Regions from separate parts of the Homo sapiens genome. Here all the other regions are linked to region 3. The links come from fine-mapping of genetic effects on gene expression. A gene starts in region 3. Each other region holds a variant in brackets. All regions are shown on one strand. Distances are from middle to middle.

The links. PIP is the estimated chance that this variant, and not a neighbour inherited with it, causes the effect. A credible set is the group of variants that fine-mapping cannot tell apart.
Region 1: its variant is the best candidate, but not a certain one, in a credible set for the expression of SYCP2L in esophagus muscle (GTEx, PIP 0.87).
Region 2: its variant is the best candidate, but not a certain one, in a credible set for the expression of SYCP2L in left ventricle (GTEx, PIP 0.83).

The regions. Positions count from the first base shown.
Region 1 is chr6:10,934,810-10,945,010 of GRCh38, reverse strand. SYCP2L (synaptonemal complex protein 2 like) reads right to left here. Exons shown (of 30, transcript NM_001040274.3): 21 at 9,824-9,953; 22 at 2,482-2,552; 23 at 2,265-2,334. All of the region lies in intron 2 of LOC101928191 (a long non-coding RNA gene), which reads left to right. Among named protein-coding and RNA genes, the nearest start is that of SYCP2L, 53 kb to the right of the region's middle. The variant T/C (reference allele first, on the strand shown) is at 5,855.
Region 2 is chr6:10,919,010-10,929,210 of GRCh38, reverse strand. It overlaps SYCP2L (synaptonemal complex protein 2 like), which reads right to left. Exons shown (of 30, transcript NM_001040274.3): 15 at 4,570-4,715; 16 at 2,779-2,872; 17 at 1,844-1,971; 18 at 761-808. Among named protein-coding and RNA genes, the nearest start is that of SYCP2L, 37 kb to the right of the region's middle. The variant A/G (reference allele first, on the strand shown) is at 5,917.
Region 3 is chr6:10,882,067-10,892,267 of GRCh38, reverse strand. SYCP2L (synaptonemal complex protein 2 like) reads right to left here and starts at 5,216. Exons shown (of 30, transcript NM_001040274.3): 1 at 5,133-5,216; 2 at 687-755. The coding sequence starts at 5,141. RefSeq lists an enhancer at 5,281-6,049 and a silencer at 10,038-10,201.

The DNA.
Region 1 (10,201 bases), 53 kb before region 3:
CGGGCACGGTGGCTCATGCCTGTAATCCCAGCACTTTGGGAGGCCGAGGCAGGCAGATCACCTGAGGTCAGGAGTTCAAGACCAGCCTGGCCAACATGGCGAAACCCCGTTGCTACTAAAAATGCAAAATTAGCTGGGTATGGTGGCACATGCCTGTAATCCCAGCTACTTGGGAGGCTGAGGCAGGAGAATCGCTTGAACCTGGGAGACAGAGGTTGCAGTGAGCCAAGATCACGCCACTACACTCCAGCCTGGGTGACAGAGTGAGACTCTGTCTCAAAATAAAAAAATTAAAAAATAAAAAATAATATTTTAAAGTAAATAATGACAAATATATATTATAATGTGTGGGATTCACCTAAAGCAGTACTTAGAGAGAAATGGATAGCATTAAATGTAGTAACATAGGAAATAATATATAATATCTTTTTGGTAGGTAAGAATTTCATATGACTAACCACAGAGGAAAGATGAAAGAGAATTTATTAAAATTAAAAGCTTTGATTTATCAAAAAAAGCAATCTTAAACAGATTATACAGAGAGAGAAGTACAGACCACACAGTGGAAGAAGATATTTACAAGCCACATAATCAAGGACAAGTGTCCAGAATGTATTACGAAGAATTCCTAGGAATCAATATAAGAAGATAATTCTATAGACAACTAGGCAAGACGTGTTAGACACTACACAAGAGGAAATTCAAATGGCTAATAAACACACAAAATTATGCTAAATTTCAATCAGGGATATTTGAATTAAAACTTCAGTGTCCACACACACATATATCAGAAATTTAAAATACCAAGTGTTGGTGAGGATGTAAAGCAACAGGACTCTCATATACGGCTGGTGGAAAAGTAAAAGATACAGTCACTTTGAGAAAGTTTGGCATATGTAAAATTGTTAAAGGTATACATATTTTATAACCCAGCAATTATACTCCTAAAAATGTGCCTAGACAAGATTTTTAACCTGTGTATCAGGAGAGAGTTCATGATTCTTCATAGTGGCATTATTTCTAACAACCCAAATTGCAAAAATCCAAATATCCCACAGCACTGGAATGGATTTTTAAATATGGTATTTTCATGTAACTGCATGCTAAATAGTAAAGAAATATACCTCAATTACACACATTAGCATGAATGGATCTCACAAATGATTGAGCAAAAGAAGCCACATATAATGTATACAGTATAATGTCATTTGTTTACATTTAGAATCAGATAAAACTAAACTGTATATTATTTAGGGATACATATGGAGAAAGCAAAATTATAAAAAGAAGTAACTGAAGGATGTTTACAAAAGTCATAAGTCATTACCTCTATGAGGGATGAAAGAAATTAATAAGTAATAATCTGGTATGGAAGGATTCTAAGCCAATGGCAATTTTCTAGTTCCCAGTTTGAGCTGTGGTTACACAGATGTTCACTTTATAGTCATTCTTTAAACTGTACACATCTATCTCTTCTGAATGTATGGTATTTCTCACAACGCACGAATGAACAAAAAAGCAGAGACTCAGACATAAAATTAAGGGGAGGGGGTGGGATGGGTTTCAGGTAAAGCATACCAGGATTTTGAAAGCAATAGTAATGTTATATTCCTAAAACAGGATGGTGGTTTGCAGATATTTGTTGCATTAATATTCTAAATATCCTACACATATTTATAACTAGTTGAATCCTTTCGATACGTAATTTTAAAAGTAGAGAAAAAAATGCAGTCAAGAAACATCATAAACAGTAGAAAAGTATTATATTAACTCATTACATTATATTAGATACAACATTGTGAACCAGACTGGAAATCTTCATACCACTGTTAACATGAGTAAATGAACTCAGAAGTTTTAATAATTTGACCACACAATGTTTTAGAACATTTCTTATAAACCACAAGTGACCTACATGCTTGAGAATGAAATCAGCTCTGGATGAGACCCTTAGCAAAGTACCGCCACTGTGCCCTCCTCTGAGGCTGGAGAGAAGGTGTGACTGGCTGGTGGGATTCAGGTCCCAGGCTATACCTTCCTTGGCACAAGAGGTCCTGGTTCCTGAATGGAGCCCCCCATTTTTCCTCCTAACCTTCATGAACATTTAGAACTAGTAAGCAGCTCACACTGCTCCCTCCACGGCCTGGCAATAGTCACTGTGCAAAGTGACTTGATCTGCAATCTGAGTAACAGCCCAGTCTGCCAAAATCAGATTAATTTCATTTTATTCTGCAAAAAAAAAAAAAAAAGTACTATTCTCTTACCTTTGTCTTCCAAGTTTCTCAGCTTATGTTTCAAGCTAGTACTTTCTGTTAGTGATTCTTGGTTCACAATCTTAAAAACAAAACAGACCACAAATTACGTCCTTTATGGCAAAGCAAGAAACAAGTGGTGTACTCGTCAGAAGGAATAGCCAATGTGTTATGCAAATATGATATTAATTCTGGAAAATCAGATGAATAACCAACAATTAAATAGTACCTTAGGTTTTTCTTCATCTTCTGAGTGCTTCAAGGAAGAGAGCTCACTCAGTGAGTGAGGATCTTGAAGCTCTGAGCATTAGAGAGAAGTTTCAAGTGAATACACGCCAAGTAACAAAGCAATAAGAATTCACTATCATTCTAGATATTAAATCTCATCATCAAAAAAAAGGAACACAGTTCTAAGTGAAACAAAAATCTACTGACTGTGTCTTTCGGGACACGAATTCTTTTTTATTATACTTTTAAGTTTTAGGGTACATGTGCACAACGTGCAGGTTACGTATGTATACATGTGCCATGTTGGTGTGCTGCACCCATTAACTCGTCATTTAACATTAGATATATCTCTTAATGCTATCCCTCCCCCCTCCCCCCACCCCACAACAGGCCCCAGTGTGTGATGTTCCCTTTCCTGTGTCCATGTGTTCTCATTGTTCAATTCCCACCTATGAGTGAGAACATGTGGTGTTTTTCATCCTTGCGAGTTTGCTGAGAATGATGGTTTCCAGCTTCATCCATGTCCCTACAAAGGACATGAAATCATCATTTTTTATGGCTGCATAGTATTCCATGGTGTATATGTGCCACATTTTCTTAATCCAGTCTATCGTTGTTGGACATTTGGGTTGGTTCCAAGTCTTTGCTATTGTGAATAGTGCCACAATAAATATACCTGTGCATGTGTCTTTATAGCAGCATGTTTTATAATCCTTTGGGTATATACCCAGTAATGGGATGGCTGGGTCAAATGGTATTTCTAGTTCTAGATCCCTGAGGAATCACCACACTGACTTCCACAATGGTTGAACTAGTTTACACTCCCACCAACAGTGTAAAAGAAAAGTGTGCCTATTTCTCCACATCCTCTCCAGCATCTGTTGTTTCCTGACTTTTTAATGATCGCCATTCTAACTGGTGTGAGATGGTATCTCATTGCGGTTTTGATTTGCATTTCTCTGATGGCCAGTGATGGTGAGCATTTTTTCATGTGTCTGTTGGCTGCATAAATGTCTTCTTTTGAGAAGTGTCTGTTCATATCCTTTGCCCACTTTTGGATGGGGTTGTTTTTTTCTTGTAAATTTGTTTGAGTTCTTTGTAGATTCTGGATATTAGCCCTTTGTCAGATGAGTAGATGGCAAAAATTTTCTCCCATTCTGTAGGTTGCCTGTTCACTCTGATGGTGGTTTCTTTTGCTGTGCAGAAGCTCTTTAGTTTAATTAGATCCCATTTGTCAATTTTGGCTTTTGTTGCCATTGCTTTTGGTGTTTTAGACACGAAGTCCTTGCCCATGCCTGTGTCCTGAATGGTATTGCTGAGGTTTTCTTCTAGGGTTTTTATGGTTTTAAGTCTAACATTTAAGTCTTTAATCCATCTTGAATTAATGTTTGTTTAAGGTGTAAGGAAGGGATCCAGTTTCAGCTTTCTACATACGGCTAGACGATTTTCCCAGCACCACTTATTAAATAGGGAATCCTTTCCCCATTTCTTGTTTTTGTCAGGTTTGTCAAAGATGAATTCTTATTAGGTTTGTACATCTGTAGTTAAGATTAACAGCCAGTTACTTCAACTAGATCGGCACCTTAAGGAGCTGCCCATCTGGCCTCAAATAACACGGGCAGGGATTCTTCCACCTCAATCTTGTGATTCTTCTCTCCCTTAGAAACCCCTCCCTTATTGCCTCTTACTCTTTTTTGATGATTTGATATACATATATACGGTGTAATGATTATCACTTTCAAATCGATGAACACATCCATCACTACCTGTGCTGTATATTACATCCCCAGAACTTGTTCATGTTATGCCTGAAAGTTTATATCCTTCGAGGACCATCTCCTCTTTCCCCCCACCTCCTAGCACCTGGCAACCACTGTTCCATTCTCTGTTTCTATGAGTTTGACTTTTTTACATTCCGTATATATGTGAGATTATATAGTATTTGTCCTTTAGTGACTAGCTTATTTCACTTACTATAATGTCCTCCAGGTTTATCCATGTTGTTGCATATGGCCTGATTTCCTTCTTTTTTGAGGCTGAATAGTATTCCATTATTAATATATACCACATTTTCTATATTCATTCATCCACTGACCAGTGCTTAGGCTGATTCCATATCCTGGCTATTGTGAATAATGCTGCAATAAACATGGGAGTGCAGATCTCTCTTCAAGATGCTGATTTTATCTGCTTTGGATATATACATGGAAGTGGGATTGATGGATTCTATACAATTCTAATTTTTTTGAGAAAACACCATACTGTTTTCCACAATAGTTGCATCAGTTTACATTCTCACCAACAGCGTACAATTGTTCCCTTCTCTCCATACCCTTGCCAACACTTGTTATCTCCTGTCTTTTCGATAATAGCTATCTGGACAGGTGTGAGATATCACATTATGGTTTTGATTTGCATTTCTCTAATGATCAGTGATGTTGAGTACATATACCCATTAGCCATTTGTGCTTCTTTTTTGGAAAAATGTCTATTCAGCTTCTTTACCCATTTTTAATTAGGTTATGTGTTGTCTTGCTTTTGAGTTGTGGAAGTTATTTTGAATATTAACCCCTAACCTATTATCAGATATATGATTTGCAATATTTTCTCCCATTCTTTAGGTTGTCTTTCCATTTGATTGATTGCTTTCTTTGCTGTGCACAAGATTTTTAGTATGACATAGTCCCAAAAGTTTATTGTGCTATTAGGGTTGTATGCAAGAAATCATTGCTAAGACCAATGTCAAAGAGCTGTTTCCCTATTTTTGTCTTGTACAGTTTTAGATCTTAAAGTCTTAACCTATTTTGAGTTGATTTTTGTATATGGTATAAAACAAAGGCCCAATTTCATTGTTTAGTATGTGGATAACCAGTTTTCCCAAAACATTTATTGAAGACGCTTTCCTTTCCTCATTGTGTATTCTTGGTGCCCTTTTCAAAGATTAAGTGGCCATATATATGTGTAGGTTTATGTCTGGGCCCATAATGTTATCTTGGCCTATGTGCCTGTCTCTATGGCAGTACTATACTGTTTTGATTACTATAGTTTTTGAATACACTTTGAAATCAGAAAGTGTGATGCCTCCAGCTTTATTCCTCTTTCTCAAGATTGCTTTGGCTATTTAGGATCTTTTGTGGTTCCATATAAATTTTAGGATAGTTTTTTCTATTTCTGTGAAAAATGCCAGTAGAAATTTGATAGCAGTTGAATTGAATCTGTATATTGCTTTGGATAATAAGGACATTTTAACAATTCTTCCAATCCATGTACATAGGATATTCTTCCATTTATTTGTGTCTTCAATTAATTTCATCAATGTCTTATAGTTTTCAGATTATGACCTTTCACCTCCTTGGTTATTTTTATGTGTTTTT[T/C]GTAAGCTATTATCAATGAAATTTTCTTTTTTTTTTTGAGATGGAGTCTCGTTGTGTCACCCAGGCTGAAATGCAGTGGCGTGATCTCAGCTCACTGCAACCTGCACCTCCTGGATTCAAGCAATTCTCCCGCGTCAGCCTCCTGAGTAGCTGGGACTACAGGAGTGTGCCACCATGCCTAGCTAATATGTTGTATTTTTAGTAGAGATGGGGTTTCACTGTGTTAGCTGGGATGGTCTCGATCTCCTGACCTCGTAATCCTCCGGCCTTGGCGTCCCAAAGTGCTGGGATTACAGGCATGAGCCACCATGCTTGGCTGAGATTTTCTTGATTTCTTTCTTAGACAGTTTACTGTTAGTGTCTAGAAATGCAACTGATTTTTGTTTTGTTTTGTTGAAACCCAGAAGCAAACCCCACAACTGATTTTTGTATGTTGATTTTGTATCCTGCAACTTTACTGAATTCATTTATTAGTTCTAACAGTTTTTTGGTGAAGCCTTTACAGTTTGATATATGTAAAATCATGTCATCTTTAAACAAAAACAATTTAACATCTTCCTATTTGGATGTCTTTTATTTCTTTTTCTTGCCTGGATAGAACTGGGTAGGACTTCCAGTACTATGTTAAACAGAAGTGGCAAGAGTAGACACCTTTGTCGTATTCCTGATCTTAGAGGAAAAGCTTTCAGCTTTTCACCATTGAGTGGAATGCTAGCTCTGGGCTTGTCATATATGGCCTTTTTAATATTGAGGTGCATTCTATATGTACTTAATTTGTTGAAAGTCATTATGAAAGGATGTTAAATTTTGTCAAATGCTTTTTTTGCATCTATTGAAATGATTCTATGAATTTAACCTTCATTCTCTTAATGTGGTTTATCACATTTATTGATTTGCATATATGGAAACTTCCTTGAATCTCAGGGATAAATCCTACTTTAACATGGTGTATAGTCCTTTTAATGTGCTATTTAGTAAGTTTTGCTAGTATTTTTGAGGGTTTTTACATATACGTTCATCAGAGACATTGGCCTGTAATTTTCTTTTCTTGTAGCATTCTTATCTGGCTTTGACAAGAGGGTAATGCTGGCCTCATAAAATGGGTTTGGAAGTGTTCTGTCCACCTCAGTTTTTTGGAAGAGTTTGAAAAGGATTGGCATTAATTTTTCTTTAAATACTTGGTAGAGTTCACCAGTGAAACCGTCTGGCCCTGGGCTACTCTCCGTTGGGAGGTTTGATTACTGATTTGATCTCCTTACTCATTATGGGTCTGTTCAGCTTTTCTATTTCTTTATATTCAGTCTTGGTAGGTCGCATGTTTCTAGAAACTCACCCATTTCTTCTAGGTTATCCAATTTGTTGGTGTATAATTTGTTTGTTGTAATGGCTTATGATCCTTTGTAGTTCTGTGGTATCAGTTGTAGTGTCTCCTTTTTCATTAACAGTTTTTTTTGAGTCCTCTCTTTCTCTTGGTTAGTCTAGCTAAAGGTCTGTCAATTTCATTCTTTCCAAACACAAACTCTTAGTTTCATTGAACATTTCTATTGTCTTTCTAGTGCCTACTTCATTTATTTATGCCTTAATATTTGTTATTTTCTTCGTTAAGCTGACTTTGGGTTTAGTTTCTTCTTTTTTCAGTTTCTTGAGGGGTGAAGTTACTTGGGATTTTCCTTTTTTCTTAAGGTAGGTATTTATTGCTAATAAACTCCCCTTTTAACACTGCTCTTGCTGCATCCTGTAAATTTTGGTATGTTTCCATTTTCATTTATCTCAAGATTTTTTAATTTCCCTTTTAATTTATTTGATCCATTGGTTATTCGGGAGTGTGTTGTTTAATTTCCATGTATTTGTGAATTTTCCAATCTTCCTCCTGCTATTATTTCTAGTTTCATACTGCTGTGATCAGAAAAGACATCTGAGATTATCTCAATCTTTTCAAATTTGTTAAGATGTATTTTGTAGCCCAACATATGATCAATTCTGGAGAATGTCCCATGCGCACTGTACACTGGAGAAGAATAAGTGTTCCACTGCTGTTAGATGGAATGTTCTGTATATGTTAGTTAGATTCATCTGGTCTACAGTATTATTCAAGCCACTGTTTCCTTATTGATTTTCTATCTGGATAATCTATCGACTATTGAAGGTGGGGTAATTAAAGAACTCTTTTATTGTATTGCTATTTCTCTCTTCAGGTCTATTAATATTTGCTTTATACATTTAGGTGCTGTAATGTTGGGTGCATATATATATTTACAATTGCTATTTCCTGTTGATGAATTAACCCTTTTATCATCATCTAGTCTTTGTCTCTTGTGACAAATTTTGACAGAAAGTCTATTTTGCCTGATGTAGGTATAACCACATCCCTGCTCTCTTTTGATTGCCATTTGCATGGAATATCTTTTTCCGACCCTTCACTTTCAGTTTATATCTGTCCTTAAGGTACAGTGAGTCCCCTGTAAGCAGCAGATTGCTGAATCTCACTTTTTTCTATCCATTCAACCACTCTGTGTCTTTTGATTGGAGAATTTAATCCATTTAAAGTAATTATTGATAGGTAAAAACTTAGTATTGCCATTTTGTTGATTGTTACTCTTTTGTAGTAACTTTGTTCCTTTCTTCCCTATCTTGCTCTCTTCCTTCCTTTTAATCTATTTTTTTTTCTTTGTGAGATAGAGTCTCACTCTGTCGCCCAGGCTGGAGTGCAGTGGCTCACTGCAACCTCTGCCTCCCGGTTCAAGCAATTCTCCTGTCTCAGCCTCCCGAGTAGCTGGGACTACAGGTGCCTGCCACCATGCCTGGCTAGTTTTTGTATTTTTAGTAGAGACGAGGTTTCACTATATTGGTCAGGCTGGTCTCGAACTCCTGACCTCAGGTGATCTGCCCGCCTCAGCCTCCCAAAGTGCTGGGATTACAGGAGGGAGCCACTGCGCCTGACCCCTTTTATTCTTTAATGTTACATTTTCCTCTCTACTTTTTGATTTTCCCTACTTATTTTCTTCCAGTGGCAGCTACACTAACAGATTGTTATTGAAGTACTTACTAAATATCATTGTATGCCTGGCAATGTGAACTGCAGAATAATGAACAATATTAATATTGTTATTAATAATAATAAAATCATATTATTAACAAACTTAAAAACACAGTCAAAATAAAATACAGTGAGGGTTAAGAAAAAGCCTATAGGTTAAGGGTTGGCAAACTCTGGCCCCCAAGTCAGATCCAGTCTGCTACCTGATTTTATAAATAAAGTTTTATGGAAAGACAGCCACCCCATTGGCTTACATCTTATCCATGGCCAATTTTGTGCAACAACTGCAGAGTTGAATAGTCACAACAGAAACCATATGGATCAAGTCTGGCCATGGTGGCTCACGCCTGTAGTCCCAGCACTTTGGGAAGGCAAGGTGGGCAGATCACTTGAGGTCAGGAGTTCCAGACTGGACTGGCCAACATGGTGAAACTCCGTCTCAACTAAAAATACAAAAATTAGCCGGGCATGGGAGGCTGAGGCAGGAGAATCGCTTGAACCTGGGAGGCGGAGGTTGCAGTGAGCCAGGAGCACACCATTGCACTCCAGCCTGGGTGACAGAGCAAGACTCCGTGTCAAAAAAAAAGAAAAGAAAAAGAAACCATATGGATCAAAAAGCAAAAAATATTTACTATTGGAACCTTACAAAAAATGTTTACCAACCCCTGCTACAGGTCATCATTTGAGATGTCTTGCTTCTTTAAAAAAAGAAGAGACCAGCAATTCTTGGGTACAAGATGATCTCAAATGGCACAGCAAAATTAAAACATCATATCCTCTGTTAATTTGCTAATAAGAGACATTAAGGTAAAGAACAATGTTATCTTCATATTTTCTTTAATAGATATTAAAATAAAAATGTTTTGTTTACTTCAAACTACCTTTCCCAAATACAAATTTTTTCCTATGTAAGTCAACAGAAAATCATGTACCTGTTTTCTGGGCAGAATCTTCAGCAGTCAAAAAAGCAAAACTATCTTGGAATTTTTGTTCAGAAGTCTTTGGAGATGTGGTGTTATTTTGCTCGGGTATTTCTTTCTCTGATGGTGATAGAAGCTTAGCCTAAAATATAGTATCTTTTTTAAGTGTTAACATTCATAATTAAAAACAAGTTATCAAAATATTGTAAGACATTTTCAATATTACTTTAAGAAGCTTAAGTATTAGATTTACTCCATTTGAAAATAAATGCTAATTCTACTAAGAATTTCTGTGTGTTTTTAGTTGAGGGGTGGATATTAGCTTAATGCCATGGTACTGAATCTGAATTAGGTCATTTACTCTTTCTCGAGATACAGAAATGAAAATCT
Region 2 (10,201 bases), 37 kb before region 3:
GAGAATACACAGCCGGGTGCGGCCAGGTGTGGTTGCTCATGCCTGTAATCCCAGCACTTTGGGAGGCGGAGGCTGGTGATCACCTGAGGTCAGGAGTTTGAGACCAGTCTGGCCAACATGGCAAATCCCAGTCTCTACTAAAGATACAAAAATTAGGTAGGCATGGTGGCATGCCCCTATAATCCTAGCTACTCAGGAGGCTGAAGCAGGAGAATTGCTTGAACCCAGAAGGCGGAGGTGGCAGTGAGCCAAGATTGTGCCATTAGCGAAACTCAGTCTTAAAAAAAAAAAAAAAGTAAAGAAAAGAGTATACACAAACATGGAGGCAAAAACAATCTCAAGGAGGGGATGGTCAAAAAATTGACAGATGGCTGATGGGGCATGGTGGCTCATGCCTGTAATCCCAGAGATTTGGGAAGCCAAAATGGGAGAATCTCTTAAGTCCAGGAGTTTGAGACCAGCCTGGGGAATGGAGCGAGACTCCATCTCTATAAAAAATTTTAAAATAAGCCAGGCGTGGTGGCACCACCTGTAGTTCTTGCTACTCAAGAAGCTGAAGCGGGAGGATCACATGAGCCTGGGAGGCTGAGGCCACGGTGAGCTATGATGACAGAACAAGGCCTTGTCTTAAAAAAATTTTTTTAAATTGACAGATGGTTGGCCAGGAGAAAATGGTCCATGAACCAGGAAAGGTGGCTTCCACCTGTCACAGTCCCACTGGAGACAGATAAGAAACTTGAGCCCCACTCCCTGTACTCACAGGTTGTTGCGGGAAGTCAGGGACCCCGAACGGAGGGACCGGCTGAAGCTATGGCAGAAGAACGTGGATTGTGAAGATTTCATAGACATTTATTAGTTCCCCAAATTAATACTTTTATAATTTCTTATGCCTGTCTTTACTCAATCTCTGAACATAAATTGTGAAGATTTCATGGACACTTATCACTTCCCCTTGTGATTTCCTATGCCTTGTGATACCCTTGTATCACAAGGGTATCACAATACCCTTGTGATTTCCTATGCCTGTCTTTAATCTCTTAATCCTGTCAGCTGAGGAGGATGTATGTCACCTCAGGACCCTGTGATGATTGCGTTAACTGCACAAATTGTAGAGCATGTGTGTTTGAACAATATGAAATCTGGGCACCTTGAAAAAAGAACAGGATAACAGCAATGTTCAGGGAATAAGAGAGATAACCTTAAACTCTGACCGCCGGTGAGCCGGGTGGAACAGAGCCATATTTCTCTTCCTTCAAAAGCAAATGGGAGAAATATCGCTGAATTCTTTTTCTCAGCAAGGAACATACCTGAGAAAGAGAATGCGCCCCTGAGGGTGGGCCTCTAAAATGGCCCCCTTGGGTGTGACCATCTTCTATGGTCGAGACTGTAGGGATAAAATAAGCCCCAGTCTCCCATAGCGCTCCCAGGCTTATTAGGGCGAGGAAATTCTCGCCTAATAAATTTTGGTCAGACCGGTTGCTCTCAAACCCTGTCTCCTGATACGATGTTATTGATGACAATGGTGCCCGAAACTTCATTAGCAATTTTAATTTCGCCCCGGTCCTGTGGTCCTGTGATCTCGCCCTGCCTCCATTTGCCTTGTGATATTCTATTACCTTGTGAAGTACGTGATCTCTGTGACCCACACCCTATTCGTACACTCCCTCCCCTTTTGAAAATCCCTAATAAAAACTTGCTGGTTTTACAGCTCAGGGGGCATCACGGAACCTACCGACATGTGATGTCTCCCCTGGATGCCCAACTTTAAAATTTCTCTCTTTTGTAGTCCGTCCCTTTATTTCTCAACCTGGCCGATGCTTAGGGAAAATAGAAAAGAACCTACGTGACTATCAGAGGCAGGTTCCCCAATAACAGGTGGCTCAGATTGGTCATTTAAGTGGAGAGTTATTAGGCAGCGGTCATCTTCAGCACTCATAAACTCCACCATGTTAGTGGATTCTTCTGCCTGCTCTATACAAATTAAGAAAAAGACTAATATAATAACCGTGCACACGCTGACATACTCACCAGTGGTCTTCATGGGATGTCCCCTCTGGTACCTCTCCATCCTTTGGTAAGACCTGGTAATTAGGTCCTGCCTCAAACCTCCAATCAGAAAGCTATGGGTACAGGCTGGCATGTTGGCTCACGTCTGTAATCCCAGGACTTTGGGAGGCCAAAATGGGCAGATCACTTGAGGCCAGGAGTTTGAGACCAGCCTGGCCAACATGGCAAAATCCCGTCTCTGCTGAAAATACAAAAAATTAGCTGGGCATGGTGGCACACACCTGTAGTACCAGCTACTTGGGAGGCTGAGGCAGAAGAGTTGCTTAAACCTAGGAGGCAGAGGTTGCAGTGAGCCGAGATCGTGCCACTGCACTCCAGCCTGGGCAACAGAGCAAGACTCCATCTCAAAAAAAAAAAAAAAAGAAAAGAAATCTATGGGCACTTGGGAAAACAGCCTTGGGGCATAACTCAAAAGAGAAACACGGTCTAGTGCAGGGCCGACTTTGTGGGTAGACAAGACCTTCCTTACCCCCATGTCCTGCCTCCCCCAAACCCCATCATTTCTTCTTTGTCATTTCCAGTTGACCCACAAGAGAGACCTTAACAGGTGTAGAAAACAATTCAAGGCTATCAGCAACTCTTCTTCCTCCAGAAGTGCCATCAGACACGCATCACTCATATGACCACAGGTTTCCAGTGACCTCTTCCAACTAAGGTTTCATCGCTTTTACAGAAAACTCAGGGTCAGAATTTTGTTATTTCCCAATATACCTGTTTCTCTTTCAAGGCCACTGGGACTCTCCCTGTCTTCTTTATCAGACTTACTAAAAAGTTCTGAGGAGATTTTCGTCTGGTCAGGCAACATCTGAAATGCAAGACAAAGGTCAACTTTGAAATGTAGTCATCTTTAAAAAAAAAAAAATTTAAGGAAAACGTAAAGCTTAGAACAAAACACACTGATAAATCAGAAGTTAGTCAAGTTTACCAGTTTGTCCTCTCCTGAAGGATCATTCCACTGTTTCTGGCTTCTCCAGGCCCCACCTCCCTACAGGACCAGCTCGGGCTAGCCATTCCCCTGCTCCAAGCACTCTTTCCTGGTATCTTCCCAGCCTCTCCTGTCTCTGGCCCAGGTCTTACCCCATTGGGTAACGTCTAACCGCTGCTTCTCTCAGGCACTGAGTCTCTTTCAGGATGAGTCTGTAGTGAGTTCCCAACTATAGGGTCCTCAGTCCAACCCCTTTCCCTAGAATAGGGGCCTCCTATTCTAGGAACTACAGCTTTATCACAGGAAAATCCTCATTCTCCCCTCAAAACGTTATTATTCATTTTGTGAAACTGGAAAGACATATGATTTCGATGTTTTTGTGAGTTAAGGCAAACTTGTCTTCAGAACATATGTAATTTGATGGAGGAGGTGTTTTTTAACCAAGTGACTGATTTCCCCTTTATTTCTCATCCTCATCCATGAAATGGCCTTTTTGTAAAAAGACCATGTCATTAAAATAAGGTGAGTTTTTAGAAACTATTTTCAGAGCACTTTGCTACATATAAACACCTTCATATACAACTCAAACCAAAAGGAAACCAGCCCAAGACTTCCTTATCTGGTCTCTGAGCTCTTAATTCAACTTTCTATGGGCCATTACCACAGTATTTTTTGCCTTTTGTCACAAATTTCTTTGCCCTGTCTACCATCTGTGATACAGAAAGGTTTCCTGTTTCTGTCAATAAGTAGGAAACAGAGAGAGTTGGAGACCACAGCAATCTAGAGAAGTACAGACCATTTCCACAAGATAAGACCAACAGGTACAACTGTGGAAAAAGTCCCTCAGAAACTTTATTCCTAATGACTCCCTGATACAGTCTGGCTGTGTCCCCACCCAAATCTCATCTTGAATTGTAGCTCCCGTAATTCCCACATGTCATGGGAGAGACCCCATGGGAGGTAACTGAAACATGGGGATGGGTCTTTCCCATGCTGTTCTGACAGTAAGTCTCACAAGATCTGATGGTTTTATAAAGGGGAGTTCCCCTACTCTCTTGCCTGCCGCCATGTAAGATGTGACTTTGCTCCTCCTTTGCCTTCTACCATGATTGTGAAGCCTCCCCAGCCATGTTGAACTGTGAGTCCATTAAACCTCTTTCCTTTATAAATTACCCAGTCTCTGGTATGTCTTTATTAGCAGCGTGAGAACAGACTAATACACTCCCCCTAGGTCCAGGGGGAGCTGAGAGAGACAGAAATGCCAGTGTCCTCAGGACTCCAGGAAGAAGGTGGTAACAGGGTGATATTATCCTAGAAAACCTTTCAGCTGTTCACAGTTAGTAGAGTAAAGCATTTCAAGGAACAAAGAGGCTTTCTATCCTACCTCAAGACAATGACCCATCAAAAGGGAAAACTGGGATTTAAATCCAGAACTCTCAACTCTTTTTTACATGGCATTTGAAAGACCAGGTTTTCTGCTTTATCAAATATTCACATCAAAACCCAACAAGGACATTTAATAGACATGAAACATACTAAAACATTTTTAAATAATCCAAAAGAATGAAACCTGCCACCTGTTTGTCTTCTCCTAAAGCTTGAATGGAAACTTGTGATATGTTGAACTGCAAATCAAAATGGATTTCTATTTTCATGACTTCTTTGTAGCTGATAATCATGGGCTTCTTCAGGTAAATGATAAATATCTTTATCTTCTCCGTTTCTAAGAGAAAATATGGAATATCAATGCATAGCAACATACTTCAATGTTTTATTTTAAAATTTTATCATTTTAAATAACTACGCTAGGGTATTTGTCCAGATTTTTCTGTGTTAAGAAGTTGAAAAGAAATCATATTAAATAACATTACTTTGAAATTGTCCTTTAGATGCACATGTATTTACACATATACACATACAACACAATTAAGTGGTTGATCTTGCAAACATTGGAAGTAACTTACCTTAGCAGCAAAGAAATGAAGATAGTTTTGTCTTCTGCAATTCAGTTTTTTTAAGAGCATTTTGTTTATACAAGGCTATCATCTGCAACAGGTATTTTATTCCCAAATATACTATGCACAATATTCACTCTCTCTCTCTCTGAAATTCTACTTATTTCTAAAATTGAAAATAAAACTCACTGTCCCCAATGTGCAAAATGGAATAATCTACCACCATTTCAATGGACTCCACTTGAAGAAGAGACGGAAACACCTTAGAAAAAATTCTGTAGGCCAGGCGTGGTGGCTCACGCCTGTAATCCCAGCACTTTGGGAGGCCGAGGCGGGTGGATCACGAGGTCAGGAGATGGAGACCATCCTGGCTAACACGGTGAAACCCTGTCTCTGCTAAAAATACAAAAAAATTAGCCGGGCGTGGTGGTGGGTGCTTCTAGTCCCAGCTATTCGGGAGGCTGAGGCGGGAGAATGGCGTGAACCCAGGAGGCGGAGCTTGCAGTGAGCCGAGATCGTGCCACTGCACTCCAGCCTGGAGGAGAGAGCTAGACTCCGTCTCAAGAAAAAAAAAAAAAAAGAAAAAGAAAAAGAAAGAAGTCTGCGTCTCCCAGCACTTTGGGAGGCCGAGGCGGGTGCATCACGAAGTCAGGAGTTTGAAACCAGCCTGACCAACACACTGAAACCCTATCTCTACTGAAAATACAAAAATTAGCTGGGCGTGGTGGTGCACCCCTGTAATCCCAGCTACTCAGGAGGCTGAGGCAGGAGAATTGCTTGAACCCGCTAAGCGGAGGTTGCAATGAGCCGAGATCATGCCACTGCACTCCAGCCTGGGTGACAGAGCAAGCCTCCATCTCAAAAAAAAAAAAAAAAAAAAAAAGTGTGTGTTTCAGACAATAGCCTCCTTGCAGCCTCCTCCCAGGTCACCAGCCCTTTCCTGACAAATTGTAATCGGGCTTACAAGAG[A/G]AAATGGCTTAGACCAAATTCACAAAGAGGCCAAGAATACACCACATTAAGTACAAGGTAAGTCGGAAGAAGGAGAATAGAAAAGGCAGCAAAGTCCAGGAAAGAACAGGCAAAGCTAATGGCCACAAATTAATGAGACGGGAAACAAGGGGAAAAAAGAGGGAAACATACATGAGTCTAAATCTGTGAGGTCCAACTCATCAGAGTACTGAAAGCATGCCTAGTACTAACCGAGATGCTCTGTAAGCACAAAATACGCATCGGATTATGAAGACTCAGTACACAAAAGAAGAATGTAAAATGTATCATTAATAATTTTAAAATATTGATTACATGTTAAAATAATATTCTGGATATTATTATTCCAGGATATAATATTCTGGGTTAAACAAAATATATTAATAAAATTAATCTACTTAATCTACTTTTTTAATCTACTCAAATTAATCTACTTTTTTCTTTAATGTGACTACTAGAAAATTTTAAATTAAGTATCTGGCTCACCTCATATTTCTATAGGACAGTGCTGGTCTAGAGTAAGCCTCCATGATCTCCCCAAAATACTAATCTTGCCGGACATTTTACTCATCACTCCAGGGAAAGTCTATAAAACCATGCAACAAAAGTAATCTTAAATATCTTAAAAAGTAACTAGCTAATTGTTAGCCCGGCATGGTGGCGGGCGCCTGTAGTCCCAGCTACTCGGGATGTTGAGGCAGAAGAATGGCGTGAACCCGGGAGGAGGAGCTTGCAGTGAGCTGAGATCGCACCACTGCACTCCAGCCTGGACGACAGAGTGAGACTTCGTCTCAAAAAAAAAAAAAAAAAAGTAACTAGCTAACTGGGCCGTGGGATCAATGCAAACATATACAAGGGTCAGAAGAAATACCATGAGGGCTACATCAAGCTTCCAACATACTACACTGCCAACTCCATAACCAGAAGGGCTATGATACAGAACAAAAGTCTTACTTACGGAATTTACTAGACAATCATCAGTTTCTTTGGCTATAAGAATGGAAAGAGTAATACCTACTTCCTGTAGAAATTGTGAGGCACTTTGTAAATTAAAAACCATGAACCACAGAAACGTGATCTATTCATGAAGTTACAAAATATTAACTTTGGCAAGTTGACTCCTGAAAGCTGTTAACTGAGCACCCACATTCTTAAAGAAAATAATGAATTATTTTTACCTTTTTCCTTTTCCCCCACCTCTTACTTAGCTCTTTAGGAATGCAATTATGAAAAACAAACAAACAAACAAACAAAAAACATTAAAAAGTGGTCGGCCAGGCATGTTGGCTCACGCCTGTAATCCAGCACTTTGGGAGGCCGAGGCGGGCAGATCACGAGGTCAGGAGACCGAGACCATCCTGGCTAACACGGTGAAACCCCGTCTTTACTAAAAAATACAAAAAATTAGCCAGGTGTGGTGGCGGGCGCCTGTAGTCCCAGCTACTCGGGAGGCTGAGGCAGAAGAATGGCATGAACCCAGGAGGCGGAGCTTGCAGTGAGCCAAGATCGCGCCACTGCACTTCAGCCTGGGCGACAGAGCGAGACTCCATCTCAAAAAAAAAAAAAGGTGGTCAAAGGACATAAACAGACACTTCTCAAAAGAAGATATTCATGCAGCCAACAAACGTATGAAAAAAACCTCAACATCACTGATCATCAGAGAAATGCAAATCAAAACCACAATGAGATACCATCTCATGCCAGTCAGAATGGCTATTATTAAAAAGTCAAACAACAGATGCTGGCAAGGTTGCGGAGAAAAAGGAAGACTTTACACTGTTGGTGGGAGCGTAAATTAGTTCAACCATTGTGGAAGGCAGTGTGGTGATTCCTCAAAGACCTAGAGAAAGAAATACCATTTGACCCAGCAATCCCATTACTGGGTATATGCCTAAAGGAATATAAATCATTCTATTATAAAAATACATGCACACCTATGTTCATTGCAGCACTATTCACAATAGCAAAGACATGGAATCAATCTAAATTCCCATCAATGATAGACTGGATAAAGAAAATGTGGTACATACACACCTTGGAATACTATGCAGCCATAAAAAAAATGAGATCATGTCCTTTGCAGGGACATGGATGGAGCTTGAAGCCATCATCCACAGCAAACTAACACAGGAACAGAAAACCAAACACCGCATGTTCTCACTTATAAGTGGGAGCTGAATGATGAGAACACATGGACACATTGCGGGGAACACATACTGGGGCCTGGGTATGTTGGGGGAGAACATCAGGAAGAACAACTAATGGATGCTGGGCTTAACACTTAGGTGATGGGATGATCTGTGCAGCAAACCACTATGGCACATGTAACAAACCTGTACATCCTGCACATGTACCTATGTAACAAACCTGTACATCCTGCACCTATGTAACAAACCTGTACATCCTGCACATGTACCCATGAACTTAAAAGTTGAAGAAAAAAAAAAAGGAACGCAATTATAACATTTACCTTCTTTCCATGAGGCACTCTCTGTCCTGCAGAGAGTATGTAACAAACCTGTACATCCCGCACATGTACCCATTAACTTAAAAGTTACCTATGTAACAAACCTGTAACAAACCTGTGTAGGTTTACCTATGTAACAAACCTGTACATCCTGCACATGTACCCATGAACTTAAAATAAAAGTTGAAGAAAATAAAAAAAGGAACGCAATTATAACATTTACCTTCTTCCCATGAGGCACTCTCTGTGCTGCAAGCTCATCTAACTATATGTTTGCTTAGAAATTCTAAGGAGGCCAGGCACGGTGTCTCACGCCTGTAATCTCAGCACTTTGGGAGGGCGAGGCTGTTGGATCACTTGAGGTCAGGAGTTCGAGACCAGCCTGGCCAACATGGCAAAACCCCATCTCTACTAAAATACAAAAATTAGCTGGGTATGGTGGTATAGGCCTGTAATCCCAGCTACTCAGGAGGCTGAGGCAGGAGAATCGTTTGAACACAGGAGGCAGAGGTTGCAGTGAGCCAAGATCACGCCACTGCACTCCAGCCTGGGTGACACAGTGAGAGTCTCAAAACCAAACCAAACCAAACCAAACAAAACAAAAAGAAATTCTAAGGAACAAACGTTGAACCAAACCAGGCACCCCCTGAGATTCTCCCCACCAGGAGATTGCCTTGAGACAACAGTCAATGTACAACCTAGTTCTGCCCACGATGGCACCAGCCAGACCACCTGATGGATAAGACATCAAAGCAAGTCATGAAGACCCCACACTTCCTCACTCTCTCCCTTACATGCCATTCATGCCAAGTCCCCTTTAAAATCCCCTGCTTTCTTGCTCACCCATTGCCTGCAAACAGACTTGGTGGTTTTGAGGGTGGGGGGTACCGTGGGAGTGAGACCGGCCCTTTGGATTGCATGGGAGCTGGGTGAGGCCTGTGACTGCTGACTTTTCCCCATTTCCCTGACAACCTGCATGACTCAGCAGAGACAGCCATAATCCTCCTAGGAACATAACTCCATTGACCTGGGAACCTCACCCATATCCCCACAGCAGCCACAGCAAGACCCACCCAAGGAGAGTCTGAGTTCAGACACTCCTAATCCTGCCCCCACCCAATGATCCTTCCCTACCTATCCTGGTAACTGAAGACTAAGGGAATATACTCTTGGGAGTTCTAGGGCCCCACCCACCGCCTGTTCCTCCCTACACTACCATAGCTGATGCTCTCTGGAAATCACCACCTACCGGCAGAAGGCCAACCAGCACAAAAACAGAGCATTAAACTACCAAAGTTAAGAACCATCACAGAGTCCATTTCACCCCACTGCCACCTCCATCAGAACAGGTGCTGGTATCCATGGCTGAGAGACCCATAGACAGTTCACATCACAGGACTCTGTACAGACAACCCCCAGTACCAGCCCGGAGCCTAGTAGACTTGCTGGGTGGCTAGATCCTGAAGAGAGATAATAGTCCCTACGGCTCGGCTCTCAGGAAGCCACAACCATAGGAAAAGAGGGAGAGTACTACATCAAGGGCACACCCCATGGGACAAAAGAATCTGAACAACAGCCTTCAGCCCCAGACCTTCCCTCTGACAGAGCCTACCCAAATGAGAAAGAACCAGAAAACCAACTCTAGTACTATGACAAAATAAGGTTCTTTAACACCCTCCAAAAATCATACTAGCTCACCAGCAATGGATCCAAACCAAGAAGAAATCCCTGATGTACCTGAAAAAGAATTCAGGAGGTTAGTTATTAAGCTAATCAGGGAGGCACCAGAGAAAGGTGAAG
Region 3 (10,201 bases):
AATCCTTTGCTTTAGTCCGCAGAACGTGGCATGATCTGATCTCTGACAGTCTGACCTCCTTGCTAATGAGTCCTAGGATAAGTCAAGCTCTTCCTTGCCTCGGGGCCTTTGAACTGGCTGTTCTAGGCCTGGGCTACTTCACCCCACCACTTTCCACATGGCTGGTTCCACTCAGATCACAGCTTAAGCATCACTTTTTCAGGTAGATCTTCCAGGACCACCTTATCTTACGTAGACCAGGTGCCTCCTCAACATTCCCAATTATTCCCCATCTCATTACCCTGTTCTTTTTCTTCCTGCTTCTTTGGCTCTCTGCCAGTCTATAAGCTCCATAAAGGCAGACGTTGTTTCTAGTTTGTTCAGTATCATCTATCTGCATTTAGGGCACAAGATATCTGCACAGGGCACAAGATAGTTTAGACTAGGATATTGGTAAGATAGCTAATGGTAAATTGACTAGATATAGTAATAAATTGGACATGAGAGATTAGGGAAGGAGAAGTAAAGATTTCTCTGCTTCTGATTTGAGCAACTGGAGGAACAAGTTTGCTAATGACCCAGGGAACACAGAACTAGAAAGAATACATACACTCATATACACATACACACACACACACACACACACACACACACACACACACACACACACACACAGAGAGAGATTATAAAAGAAACTTGATCTTTACCCAGAAAGCATCATCCTGGGCCTTCCCAGTCCTGTCTTCCTTAATAGGCTGCAAAGCATCTTTGTTTTTCTGTGTGGAATAAAAACATGTTTTTAAACAATTTTTATTTCAAAGAAATGCATTTCAAGTTTTAAACACAAAGCAAAAAAAAAAAAAAAAAAAATTAAAGGTTTGTATTGTTTTCCTGAACAGAAATTTTTGTTTGCTCATATTATAGGTCTAAGTAAAATAGTACTTAGAAAAAAGAGAAAAACTTTATCCAACCTTCTTTAGCATGGTCTAAGACAAATACAGTACAAACTATCAGAAGAAGCAAAGCAAACATCATTTGAATAAATAATCACACAAAATAAACAAACTCTATAATGATGATTATAAAGTAGAAGTAAAAAGGCTTTGAACTAATAAACCATTTTCAGAATGAGAGCTTGTAAAATAAAGTTAAATAAAAGTGTCTTTAAGGCATCATAGTACCTGACTTCAAAATATACTACAAAGTTATAGGAACAAAACAGCATGGTACTGGCATAAAAACAGACACATATGTAGACCAATGGAACAGAATAGATAAACCCAAAATAAATCTACTTTTTTATAGCCAACTGATTTTTGACAAAGGTGTCAAGAACATTCATGGGGAAAAGACAGTCTCTTCAATAACTGGTGCTGGGAAAACTGGATATTTATATGTGGAAGAATGAAACCAGATCCCATGTCTCACCATATACAAAAATCAACTCAAAATAAACTAAAAGCTTACACTTAAGATCCCAAACTACTAGAATAAAATATAGGGGAAACACTTTAGGACATTGGTCTGGGCAAAGATTTTATGGAGAAAACCTCAAAATCACAGGCAATGAAAGCAAAAATAGACAAATGAAATTATACAGACCAAAAAGCTTCTTACAGAAAGGGAAATAATAGAGTGAAGAGACAACCAGCAGAATGGGAGAATATATTTGCAAACTATGCATCCAACAAGCCATTAATATCTAGAATATACAGGGAACTCAAACACCTCAACAGCAAAATAACCAATCCAATTAAAAATGGGTAAATAAGCTAAATAGACATCTCTCCAAAGAAGACATACAAATGACCAACAGGTATATGAAAAAATACTCAACATCACTAATCATTGGAAAATGCAAATCAAAACCAAAATGAGATATTATCTTACCCCAGTTAGAATGGCCATTATCAAGACAAAAAACAACAAATGCTGGCAAGGATATGGAAAAAGAGGAACTCTTGTACACTGTTGGTAGGAATGTAAATTAGTATAGACAATATGGAAAACAGTATGGAGGTTCCTCAAAAAACTATCATAAATCCAGCAATTCCACTCCTGGAGATATATCCAAAAGAAAAGAAATCAGTATGTCAAAGGCATATCTGCACTCCCATGTTTACTGCAGCGCTATTCATAATAGCCAAGATATGGAATCAACTTAAGTGTCCATCAGTGGATGAATGGATAAAGAAAATGTGGTATATTCACACAGTGGAATACTTTTCAGCCAGAAAAAAGAACAAAATCCTGTCATTCATGGTAACATGCATGAGCCTGAAGGACATTATGCTAAATGAAATAAGCGGGGCACAGACAGACACACTGCATGTTCTTGATCACATGTAGAGGCTAAAAAAGCTGATCTCGGCCGGGTGCGGTGGCTCATGCCTGTAATCCCAGCACTTTGGGTGGCCGAGGTGGGTGGATCACCTGAGGTCAGGAGTTGGAGACCAGCCTGGCCAACATGACAAAACCCTGTCTCTACTAAAAATAGAAAATTATCCGGGCAGGGTGGCGCATGCCTGTAATCCCAGCTACGGGGGAGGCTGAAGCAAGAGAATCGCTTGAACCCGGGACGCGGAGGTTGCAATGAGCTAAGGTTGCACTATTGCACTCCAGCTGGGGAAGCAAGAGTGAAACTCCATCTCAAAAAAAAAAAAAAAAAAAAAGGCTGATCTCATAGAAGTAGAGAGAATAGTGGTCACTAGAAAAGAGGAAGTGAGATAGGCAGAGGTTAGTTAATGAACACAAAATTACAGCTAGCTGGAAGGAGTAAGTTCTAGAGTAAGATAGTACTGCAAGGTGACTATAATGTACAACTTATTGTATATTTTCAAATAGCTATACGAGTAGATTTTGAACATTCCCAACACAAAGAAATAAATATTTGAGGTGATGGATATGCATAATTACCCTGATTTGATCATTACACACTGTATACACATATGGAAATATCACACTACACCCAATTAACATGTGCAATTACTATGTGTCAATTAATATATGTGTCAATTAAAAATAAATGATAAAGGCAAAGAAAAAGAACCATTGTGTTAGTGGATAATTGAGTAGAGGCAAAAGTGAGATAGGAGGAACAGCTAAAGCTACAATTAAAATTGGGTGTTAGGCCAGGCGCAGTGGCTCACGCCTGTAATCCCAGCACTTTGGGAGGCCAAGGCGGGCATATCATGAGGTCAGGAGTTCGAGACCAGCCTGTCCAATATGGTGAAACCCGTCTCTACTAAAAAATACAAAAATTAGCTGGGCGCAGTGGCACGTGACTGTAGACCCAGCTACTCGTGAGGCTGAGGAAGGAGAATCACTCGAACCCAGGAGGTGGAGGTTGCAGTGAGCCGAGATCCAGCCACTGCGCTCCAGCCTGGGTGACAGAGTGAGACTCCGTATCAAAAAAAAAAGGGTGTTAATTCATAGCATAAACTGACATCAAATAAACACTATGCTACGTATCTATAATTTCTAAGTTTTGTCAACAAATTCTGAATTAGTGGGAAATACTTCCCATCCCAAAGAAAATATTCCCGGGAGCCTTTATGTTAAGCTTCTTTACCTCTTTTCTCTATAGACACGGCCCTATCTCTCCTTCAGTTCAATTCGTATGCAGAGATGCTCTGCTTATTTTTATTTCTACCTCCTTTCAACCTTCTCTGGCCTTGGTGGTCAGTACTTTGCAAATTCCAAAGAAATGCTTCCTGTTTCTGGAATTTCTGGAGCCACTCTAGTACACAGAAAGGTATCCCCCTTCTGTGAAGATCATGTGGCAGCTTTTGTGGGTAGGAACCTGACAGGAAAATCAGAAAGTGGGATGGTTTAGGCAGAAAAGATCGTTAGATTCTCTGAGATTCAGTCTCCTCATTTAAAAAACATGATGATAGCCGGGCGCTGTGGCTCACGCCTGTAATCCCAGCACTTTGGGAGGCCGAAGCGGGCAGATCATGAGGTCAAGAGACAGAGACCATCCTGGCCAACATGGTGAAACCCCGTCTCTACTAGAAATACAAAAATTACCCTGGCGTGGTGGCGCGCGCCTGTAGTCTCAGCTACTCGGGAGGCTGAGGTAGGAGAATCGCTTGAACCCGGGAGGCAGAGGTTGCAGTGAGCCAAGATCACGCCACTGCACTCCAGCCTGGGCGACAGAATGAGACTCCGTCTCAAAAAAAAAAAAAAAAAAAAAAAAAAAAAAAAAAAAAAAAAAAAAAAAGATGGTAACACCTATATGGAAGGATTGGAGTGAGGACTGACTGACAGAATGTCTGTAATGTTCTTAGCATAGTGCCTGGGCACATAAAAATGGCTCAGTGAATGGCAGCTTTCAATGTAACAGGGATGGAGAGGGTGAGGAGGTTATGCTTAAGTGCTCTGAATTTAAGCGTAGCTTGATGTTAGAAAGGTTTCTGTCCCAAATCTGTTTCCCCATGGCTGGGAAGATGGCGCCAGATGACAGATGGATTTTATGGAGAACAAGAGTGAGTTCCTGGATCTAGGCAAGCAGTTACCCCTGGCTATCAGAATCACCTGGCGTCCTCACTAACAAACTAACAAACTACCGGCCCACCGTAGACCAATTACATCAGAATTTCTACCACCAGGAACCCAGGCAGAAGAATGTTAGAAACACGCCCCAGGTGGTTTTTGTTTGTTGTTTTTGGCGTCCCTGGGTGGGCTCAAACTTCATGTGTTTTTTTTTATTATTTATTGATAAGTAATAATTGTAGCTTTATCTTAGGGGCTGTCCTTTGTCGTTCGGTTAAATGAAGTCCCAGCACTTGGGGTTGCTTAACACTTCTGCACTTTCTACGCAGCAAGGTGGAAAGAGGGCTGGAAAACCGGCTAGGAAAATACGCAAAGCAACTAGAAAAGAACTATCTCATTGCTTTCCGAACACGAATTCTCCGGTTCCCCTTTCCCTGAGCGCTATTTAGCTAGGGATCCGAGGTTTCTATTCTGCCTGGTCTCCCCGCAGGCTGCCAATACACTCCGAGCAAACCCAAGGAGGTGGCGGGGGACTATGCCCAGCACCCGGTCTCTGAGCGAACACCTCAAGGCGGCAGAACCTGAGCCCCAGGGACCCCGCGCCCTCGCGCGCCCTAGCACTGTGGACAGAAGGTCCGGGCCCTTCGGGGGTCACTCACCGCTTGCATAACGAGGCTTCTTCGTTCCTGAAGCGACGCGCCGCTCAGCTTTGTTGCGCTCGGTCGGCCCTCTCCTGCTTCCCCGCCCAAGAGCCCCGCCCGCTGGGGGCGCTGCCGAAAGAGCCCTGGTGGCGGACCGCTCTTCGAGTCGAGTCTTCTTCCGCAACTGTAATTGACGAATCCGCCCCCTGAAGTTTACTAGAGCTCTGTGTTTTGAGACTCAAGAAGCGCGTGCAAGTAACTAGCGCACACAGGCCAAACCACCTGGGCGCACGCACTCACCCTTTAAGAGAAAGCCAGCACTCAAAGGATGTGAACTACGTCATTTAAACGTTCCTTATTTGCGAAATTCCAAACAGATAGGCGTTCGCTTTGTGGTAGCTGTTCCAAGTTTTTGCCCCGCCTTAAAAAGCCAGAGGGGCGGCCAGGCGCGGTGGCTCACGCCTGTAATCCCAGCACTTTGGGTGGCCGAGGCTGGTGGATCACTTGAGGTCAGGAGTTCAAGACCAGTCTGGTCAACATGGTGAAACCTTGTCTCTACTAAAAATACAAAAAATTAGCCGGGCGCGGTGCACGTGCCTGTAATCCTAGCTGTTGGGGAGGCTGAGGCAGGAGAATCACTTGAACCCGGGAGGCGGAGGTTGCAGTGAGCGGAGATCTCGCCACTGCACTCCAGCCTGGGGGACAGAGTGAGACTCCGTCTCAAAAAAAAAACAGCCAGAGGAGCAGTTTTTGGTCCATTGATGTGTGCAGACAGAAGCCGAACCCTTTCCTATGGTAACCAGACTTGTACCCGATATTATTAATACATTCCTGATTTCACACACACACAAAGTGTGTTTGGTGGTTGTTTTTTAAGTACCGTGGTGGGGAGGAAGGGGAATTTTTTTTTTTAATCAAAGCAAATAGTTTTGTTTTTGTTTTTGTTTTTTTGTTTCTTTGTTTGCCTATTTCCTTTAACCTGACAAGTATGCGTACCAATGGCTAGGCTGATTCGGATAGGTGGCCAGTTGTGTGAACACGGTGGCAAAATTAAATTGGACTAGAGTTTTCCACAAAAAACAAAAAAAAGACCCCTCCAATCCAAACATCCTTTGTGTAAAAATCAACTTGTATTATAACTAGACCTGTGAGTATTTCAAGTCATAATATGTACGGAAGATATTTGTCTACACCAAAGCAAAACATAACAAAACCAGAACCCCTGTTAGCCCAGGACTTGCACACATTTCTAGTCCGTTCAAAACAATGTTTATGTCAAAGCCTGTCATATCAATTTCCTGGAAAGTATAATGTAAACATTCTTACATTAATTTACCTATTTTAATCTAAACCAAGGAAATTCAAACGCAAGTTTTTTTCCTTTTCAATGAATGGACTTTTGTAATATTAAACTAGTAATCAAGACAGGAACAGCTGTGAGTATAAGCTATTGTGAGTCAATACAAATATAATACCAGGGCAAGAAAGAAACAATGAATAATAAGAAGCAATAAACAAAATACTACAGTTTAAATGAATTTTAAGAGAATATTTAAAAATTAGAGTTTTCATAATATTAGATAGAAAACTTAATCATCTATTATTTTCAGGCTTTGGGGGAAAACATGTCCTTCCAAAGTCTATGGTGCAATGCATTCAAATCTTTAAGAGAAATTAAAAATAACAGAATAGGCAAAATACCTTTTATCTGGTTTTTTTTTTACTTTGATTAGCTTCTTTTACTAACATGTTTTGTCTTAATATAATTTATGGCAACTTGAAATGCATACTCTAATTCTTCTCAAACTAAATATAGTAGAGGCTCTATGACATTTCTTTGGATACCAGAATCCCTTTAGAAATTAATTGATTTGCCTTTTACATAAAAAAGTTTTATTTATTTATGTTTTTGACGGGTCAGGTCTCTCTAGGAACATTCCAAAAGCACAGAGACAAGAACTATTCTAGCACTGCAATAAGACCAAAAATTAATTTCTATGCATTTTCAGAGGTAACTTTAAATCACCATTTTAAAGTTATTTTTAGAACATTTGAAAGGATAAGTTATCTTAGACTACAACATTTAATGAAATACTATAATTAAAATGGATAATCAATAAATTTTCATTCAATTTTGGAAGACAAAACAACACGAAAAGCAACTGAATCAACAGGAGTTTCGGGGACCTTTGGCAGACAGTTAATAAGATGAAAAATCTGTGAATGAAACTCGTGGGTGAAGAGTAGACAGATCTCTTCGTTCCCAGCTAGACCTCAGTGGCGACCATTTGAGAGTGATTTTAATCAGAAACCTTGACTGACAGGACCTTTTAGGAGGGGAGAACTTCGGGAGAAAGGAGGCTGGGAATGAACAAATCACTTTCTTCTGCTAGGACCCTTCGGCTTTGACTGGGAGGAGGACCCCAGCTAGAAGATAAAGGAGGAAAAAATCGCGAGGAACTGCTCGAAGTTGGCCTTTCTTCCCAACAGAGTTCGCTGGTCCGCTGCCACTGGCAGGCTTCTCTGACCGACTGGGATACTTTTTCTTTCTTCTTTCCTTTTCTTTTTTTTTTCTTTTTCTTTTCTTTCTCCTTCCTTGCTTCCTTCCTCTCTCTCTCTCTCTTTCTTTCTGTCTTTCTTTCCTTCCTTTTTTTTTTTTTTTTTTTTGAGACAGGGTCTCGTTCTGTCGCCCAGGCTCGGCGCTATCTCAGGTTACTGCAACCACTGCCTCCTGGATTCAAGCGATCCTCCCGCCTCAGCCTCCCAAGTAGCTGGGACTACAGGCACACGCCACCATGCCCGGCTTTTTTTTTTTTTTTTTTTTTCGAAGAGACAGGGTTTCGCCATGTTGCCCAGTCTGGTCTTGCACTCCTGGGCTCAAGCGATCCTCCCGTCTCGGCCTCCCAAAGTGCTGGGATTACAGGCATGAGCCACTGCGCCCAATCGCGGGATGGACTTTTCTAAGCAAGCCTCACTGTGCCTTTGGCGCGGGAAGTAAAAGGACAGGGAGCGTGGACCACCCTTAGCTTCCTGATGTGGTTTCGCTCTTCCTTTATCCGCCTTTTGCCAACCGAAGGCACTAATCCTGCAAGAGGCGTTGGCATGGGCGCCCTCCTGGCCGAGTCCCGGGCAGCACCCGTCCGTGCGCTCAGCACGGGCTTTGCGGTGCCAAGGCCTAGGGTGCGTCGCTTCCCGGGTCTGGAGGGTCATGGATTCGGTTCATCCTCCTCTATCAAGGGATCTGCCGTGAGGAGTTGGCTCCTCTTCTCTGGCTGGGGCTGGGAATGGAAGCGTGCAGCTGCAAAACAAGGACGCGGGCAATAAATTCCAGAAGCCCTTTCCCCTGGCCGCCAAGAATCCGGCCTTGGGGTAGTCAAAGAGTGACTTTAGTCACTTCAATCGGTTTTGTTTTGTTTTGTTTGTTTTTTGTTTTTTGTTTTTTTTATATATATATATACTGAGGGTCTCCATGTGCCGGAGTAGCCCTGGGCGAGTCGGCTGCTCAGATGATGAAGGTTTCGTCCCAGCCCCGGAGAACCCACATTGTCCTGCGCACCTCCGCACCACCGCGATTCTCTAGTCCTCCAAAGCCTCCCAAGACTGTAATGGAGTAAATTCAATTTCGTCGTGATATTTCCAAGACTATATCAGTGAAGTTTTTTTTTAAGAGTTGTGGGCCGGGCGCGGTGGCTCACGCCTTTAATCCCAGCACTTTGAGAGGCCGAGACAGGAGGATCACGAAGTCAAAAAATCGAGACCATCCTGGCCAACTTGGTAAAACCCTGTCTCTACTAACAATACAAAATTAGCTGGTCGCGATGGCGCGCCTGTAGTTCCAGCTACTCGGGAGGCTGAGGCAGGAGAATCGTTTGAACCTGGGAGGCGGAGGTTGCAGTGAGCCGAGATTGCGCCACTGCACTCCAGCCGGGAAGACAGAGTGAGACTCCGTCTCAAAAAAAAAAAAAAAAAAAAAGATTTGTGTTCGGGTGGGTGGCAACTGAGAGCTCGCCGAACCACAACCTCTTATTTAACAGATAAACAGATAAGGAAGCTGAGACCCAGAGGGAGCCAAAGCAGTGGAGAAAGCGAGTTCTTTGGGACTTTTCCCCTCTCCCCTTTCCCTCCTTCCCCAGGCTCCCACCTACCCCAGGCTCCCACCTACCCCGGGCTCATTTCCGCCCCCCACCTCCTCCAGGTTCACTTTGTAGGACTCCGTTCCTGCAGGGCCAGGTCCCTCCGAAGTCCCCGGGAGCGTGAAGGCGCCTGGGCTCGCGAGCATACGCGGAGGCTTGGCGCACCCTGGCACGTCCCAAACAGCAGAGCCAAGACTGCGAGACACTCACAATAGTTAGGGGAAGAGCCGGCAGTGGAGGCCCAAAATGGGCTGACCCCTAACTAGGAGGCGTGGGCGCGGTTATTCAGGCTAGGGCGCACGCGGACGGCAGAGGGGCCCACGCACGGTTCCCATGCTCTCCTGGAATTGAGTGTTGGCTCTCAGGGGACTTTGCTGGAAAGCCTCCATCTAAGCCCCTTTCCGAAATCAGGGAAGCTGGACGCGTTTAGAAAAAAGAAAAAAAATAGGCCGGTCGCGGTTGCTCACGCCTGTAATCCCAGCACTTTGGGAGGCCCAGGCGGGCAGATCGTCAGGAGTTCAAGACCAGCTTGGTCAGGGTTTCGCATGGCTAAAACCTGTCTCTACTAAAAATACAAAAATTAGCCAGGGTGGTGGCACGGACCTGTATTCCCAGCTACTCGGGAGGTTGAGGCAGGAGAATCGCTTGAACCTGGGAGGCAGAGGTTGCAGTTAGCTGAGATGGCGCCACTGCACTCTAGCCTGGGCAACAGAGTGAGACAAAAAAGAAGAAAAGAAAAGAAGAAAATAATAAGGTTTTAAACTTAAAGGATACATTCCTACTTACCCTCTCCACCCCCACCCTCTGGCTGCAGTTTCCATTTGCTTCCAGGGCTGAGTTTAACCTCCACCTCCGTTCCTGGGACTGTGGTGGAGGGGGCGACCGGCCCCTGGAGCGTGGGCGCTAGCGAGGTAGGCGAGACAGGGCGGAGCCCCCCGGAGGTATATCTTTATA